Linked DNA regions of Homo sapiens: region 1 is linked to region 2. The links come from fine-mapping of genetic effects on gene expression. Tissue or cell type: atrial appendage. Region 2 holds a variant in brackets; the other region holds the start of a gene. All regions are shown on one strand. Distances are from middle to middle. Region 1 holds the start of DNAH11 (dynein axonemal heavy chain 11). Region 2 holds the start of LOC105375183 (a long non-coding RNA gene).

What was found. PIP is the estimated chance that this variant, and not a neighbour inherited with it, causes the effect.
Region 1: DNAH11 starts here. The variant in region 2 is fine-mapped to the expression of DNAH11 in atrial appendage (GTEx, PIP 0.91).

The regions. Positions count from the first base shown.
Region 1 is chr7:21,541,384-21,544,304 of GRCh38, forward strand. DNAH11 (dynein axonemal heavy chain 11) reads left to right here and starts at 1,656. Exons shown (of 82, transcript NM_001277115.2): 1 at 1,656-2,213. The coding sequence starts at 1,863. RefSeq lists an enhancer at 978-1,479 and a silencer at 1,528-1,577.
Region 2 is chr7:21,576,097-21,578,596 of GRCh38, forward strand. All of the region lies in intron 8 of DNAH11 (dynein axonemal heavy chain 11), which reads left to right. LOC105375183 (a long non-coding RNA gene) reads right to left here and starts at 46. Exons shown (of 4, transcript XR_007060247.1): 1 at 1-46. The variant G/T (reference allele first, on the strand shown) is at 1,375.

The DNA.
Region 1 (2,921 bases), 35 kb before region 2:
AAAAGTATCTTTTTTGGACTCATTAACTACTACTGATCGAAGTCTCAAACTCTGAAGTTACGTTTTTATTTACAGATTTTTGTTCAATACAGATGTAATTTATTTTGGAAAAACAAATTATTTTTTAAAAAACAAAGGATTATTTTGCCCTGTATGACATTAGTGAGTGTTGTTTTGAACCTAGCAAGCTGACTCATCCTGTCTTCCTCCAATGCTGCTAAATTTCTTTCTCGAACTGTCCTTGGAACTTACATCATTTTGTTGCTTTCCTCATTTATGAGTTAAATCAATCTTTGACATATCTTCATCTTATATTTCGAGTTACATAGTTAACTTTTTGGAAATTGCACTTTAAAGTTAGCATCATTTAAAAAATTTTCCTGCTAGATTTGAAAGTGGTTATTCACTTTCAATTTAATTCAACTATTATTTACAGAATTCCCGGTTTTCTAGGTTACAGGGATGTGAAGCTGGAATATAAGAGGGGAGAGAAGGAACTGGTGATTGCCAGCCTTGTATACCAGCAACTGGGAGCCCCAAAGATTATTATGGACAATATAAAGCAGCCTTGACAGGTTAGAAGTCATTATCAAAGTTTTCCAAGGCCCTGTGTTATTTCAAGATTCTGATCACATAACTGGAAACTTGTCGATGGTTTTCAGGGGCAGTTAATATCCTGCAAAGAAAAAAATTGTTGAAGCCTCATCTTCTGGAAATGTCTGTCAACATTCAGGTATTAAATGGATTATTGTGGGCAACAGTCCTTCAGTAGCCCCCATGGAAGGGGTGGGGATTGAAGACTTTAGTTTGAAATAAACAATTAACAAAGGAGACTTAAAAGTTTAGTTGAGGACTCCTCCTCAAAATTCTGGTTGCTTTAATAATTAGAATTTCCATAAGAGTCTCAACGAAAGCCACTAATGGACCGCAGTGAAATCCTATTTCAGTATCATGAAACTGTTTTTAATCTGAAGCTTTTTCTCTTTGACCTTTTTACTCTTGAATTAAATGATAAATCTATAGATTTTCGGAACATTTTGGAGATCACGAAAGGGCACTGTGCGTTCTCTTACTGGGTGTACTGAAGTTCCAGTAAGTTTCAGGTTGAGGATGGCAATCAGGAGGACTTCGAATACTTAGATCTTGGATTCCCACAACTAGGAAAGTTGAATTGCAGGACTGGCTCTCTTCTGGTAATATTTGGACACCTTGGGAAAGGTGAATAACAGCCTTCAACTTGGGCCCCGAAACTTCTCTGTTACTTATTTTTGTAACTTAGTTCCTTGCCCATAAAACAAAGACTGACCAGTCAGAGACTTGGCTTTCTACGGATTATGTCAACTAGTCAAGGTAAGAGATTAGCACGGACCTTGGCACAAGAGAGCATTGCTTCATCCAGAGCACTTAACCAATGCTGGGATCTCCACCAAGTGTCCAGTAGGCGAAGGAGCCGGAGGGCAGTGGAGCGAGCGCACTGGGGGCTCAGACCCACCCCGGACACGCGGCTTCTCGGCCGTGTTCGGGACCTAGAGCCCGAGGGCCTCTCCCCTCGGCCTTGGCCTTGGCGTATACTGGGCGGTGGCGCGGTGCGCTCACTCCGCCCCCAGCGGGCTGGGGCGGGGACACCGTCCCCCGGGAAACGGGACGCGCTGCTTGTCCCAGGCCTTCGCTTCGGCCTGCGAGGCTACAGCTGTGCGCAGTGGCGCGGCTGCTAAGTAGCAGCAGGTGGGAGACTAGGGTCTGCGCTCGCGGCGACCGCGGAGGAGGGTGGGCGCCTGCGGAGGTGTCCTCGCTCACTTCGGGGGGCCCAGAGTCTCGGGTGAGGAGCCAGCCGGCCTCGCGTTCCCTCGGACGGTTGCCCAATGGCAGCCCAGGTGGCAGCCCGGGAGGCGCGAGACTTCAGAGAAGCCCCGACCCTTCGCCTAACCTCGGGGGCCGGCCTGGAGGCAGTGGGCGCTGTGGAGCTCGAGGAGGAGGAGGAGAACGAGGAGGAGGCGGCGGCCAGGAGAGCGCGGAGTTTCGCCCAAGACGCGCGGGTGCGCTTCCTCGGCGGCCGCCTGGCGATGATGCTGGGGTTCACGGAGGAGAAATGGAGCCAGTATTTGGAAAGCGAGGACAACCGGCAGGTTCTTGGGGAGTTTCTGGAAAGCACCAGCCCGGCTTGCCTTGTGTTTAGCTTCGCCGCCTCGGGGCGCCTTGCGGCTTCCCAGGAGGTAAGAGGCGACGGGCAAGGGGACCTGCCCATCCAACAAAACTACCCAGGGGAGACAGCCCAGTCGCTCCCCTTTGGATTCCCGCGGGGCGCTCACTCGGGCACTTTAACAAACTTGGCTTGAAGTCCCCATCCTGAGGCCCGCAGGACTCCTCCCCACGTGCACCCACTCTGCAGTTCAGCAGCTGCAGGTTAGTTTCCTAAGTCAGCAGTTTGTATCTGACCGAGAATCCCGCGTTGAGCCTGTTCGACCAGGATAACCCAAGAACACCAGCGCTTTCTTTAGCTGCTTGGGTGTTAGGCGCCAGGTGGGCTTTCTGTGCCAAAAAACTTGCGTTTCAGTTGCTCTTGGGTCACTCTGGAGTCACATCCTTTAAAAAATGGGGTGTTTGGCAGAGCGCATGTAACTCGTCACGTATTTTGATTACGTGCCAACAACACTTCACCCCAGGCAAAAACATTAAGTCCTTAAAAAGGAAGGCCCCTGCAATCTCCGCACACATGGGTGTTTACTGAACATTTAGAGGGAACAGTTCCCTCCTTTCTTCTTTTTCTTCCTTTTCTTTTTGAATTTCGATGATTTGTCCACTAAAAGGTTAACGTATCACCTAACGTACAGCACTTGTATTTAGTATTTTTCAAGTATGATGAGTTTGGAGCAAGATTCACAATTTTTAAGTAGCGCAATGCTCAGTTTAACATGTTATGT
Region 2 (2,500 bases):
CTCTAGATCTTGTTGCTGCTGAGTATCCTACCTGCCAGCGATGGAGATTGACTCTGAGGCTCCACCATGGTATTATCCCTTGAGGAGACCAAACAGCTGCTTGGCAGGAAGTTAATTACCCAAGAAGGACAGCGATTCATCTTGTACAGGATTGATACATATTCCAAGGTTGTGTCTTCCTTGCCTGCCTGAAAGGCCTCAGCAAGCACGGCGGCCACAAACAACCCTTGAAAATGTCTATTGCAGGAAGCCCAGAAAGGAAGCACCAAGTTGGTTTAAGGGACTGTTCTTGGGGTTGTAGGGGAGAGGAGATAAAAGGAAGCCAAGATCTGAGATCCCAGAAGATCTTAATACTGACTCAAGACTCTCTTGAAAGATGTAAACTCTGATAGAGGGTATGGATAATATGTTTGATCCTTTCTAGGGCTTAAGCCAAGACCCTATCAAGCAAGTAAGTGGGAGATTGTGCTTATAAACAGCTCTTTTGAAGTAAGACAGATGTTCTCCTTGCTTCTCAGAATATTTTAGGCCAAAGCATTTTGTGGGCATAAATTAGCCTAATATCAGTGTCAATGCTGTATTTCAGCTTACTCGTGAAGACCTGGTCTTTGTGCTGTAAGCAATTAAGAAAGACAGAATTCTTAAGTGTATTTCAAGGAAATGTAAAAACAAAGTGTTCAATGCACACTTATGTATATATATTATGATGTTTATAACAAAAGTGTGAAAACACACATGGGAAAGATTGAAACTTACTTTGGGGTAGTGGTTTTCTGGGCAGGCAGAAAGAGAAATGTGTCTATGTGTGTTACTACTTATTTCTGAAATAAAATAACAGTATCTGAGAAAAACAAAACAAAAAAAACACTGGCCATTATATATAAAACAGACCTAAGAAGACTCTGAAAGGTGAAAAGAAAAAGGCAGAGTGGCTAAGGATATTGGGACTCAAGAAACAACAACGTGATGATGAGTTCCCTGGATTTTCCTGTTGCCTGAAGTAATCCAGACTTGGAGCTGAAAACACTGGCAACCAGGAAATGCCAGTGGGCACAGACCAGAAAGAAGCCCAGTAAAAGCCTGATCTCTCCCTAGCCAAAGGCTCAAGAAGGAGAGAGCTTAACACAAAAGAAGATTTGTAAGCCATCAACTGTCCACTCTAGCCAAACACCATGGAAGAAACTGTGTCCCACCCCTCCCCTTGCCAGGAAGAGCTGAGTGGGGAGCCTAGACTTACACCCTTTCTGTCTGAAAATGCTCCAACTCCCACCCTTGCTGGGGTGATGTCAGAGATGACCACATAGGGAGCCATGATTTTCATCCCTGCTGGCCAGGAATGAACTTCATTCTCTGTGGTGTCCGGAGACCATGTGG[G/T]AATCCTGGATTTCCTTCTTCACCCAGCCTGATGTTGGAGCAAACCTGATGGAGAGTCCAGACTATCACCCTGAGGCCAAGTGGTAACAAGGCCACCTGCACTTGTGGCAGCAGTAGAGACCACATGGGGAACTGGAAGTCCCAACCCAGCGGTAACAAGGAGCCCCGCCCACCCTTGGTGGATGAGTAAATGCCGAGTGGAGAACCTGGACTTCTGTCTCTATTGTAATGAGGCTGGAGCAGCATCAGAGAAAGTCAGCAAAAACAAAAGGTTTAAATAAGAGTCAGAGTCTTATAACAATATGAAATTTCAGTAGAATATCAGTTAGTATACCAAGAACCAGGAAGATCTCAACTGAGTGAAAAAAAGACAATCAGTAGATGCCAATACCAAGATAATAGAGATTTTGGAATTACTTGAAAAAGATTTTAAAGTAGTGTATTAGTCCATTTTCACATTGCTACAAAGAACTACCTGAGACTGGATAATTTATGAAGAAAAGAGGTTTAATTGACTCACAGTTCCACAGACTTAACAGAAAGCATAACTGGGAGGCCTCAGGAAACTTACAATCATGATGGAAGATGAAGGGGAAGCAAGGACCTTCTTCACATAGTGTTCAGAGAGAGAGCAAAGGGAGAAGTGCCACATACTTTTAAACCATCAGATCTCATGAAAACTCACTGTCATGAGAACAACAAAGAGTAAATTCACCCTCCATGATCCCCTGTAAAATCAAAAACAAGTTAGTTATCCAAGATACAATGAAGGTACACGTATTGGGTAAATATTCCCCTTCCAAATGGGAGAAATTGGCCAAAACAAAGGGGCTACAGGCCCTGTGCAAGTGTGAAACCCACCAAGGCAGTCATTACATCTTAAAGCTCCAAAATAATCTCCTTTGACTCTATGTCTCACATCTAGGACACGCTGATATAAGAGGTGGGCTTCCAAGGCCTTAGGCAGCTCCACCCCTGTGGCTCTGCAGGGTACAGCCCCCACAACTGCTTTCACTGGCTGATGTTGAGTGCCTGCAGCTTTTCCAGGTGTATGGATCTACCAGCTGTCAGTGGATCTCCCATTCTGGGGTCTGGAGGACAGTGACCCTCTTCTCACAGCTCCACT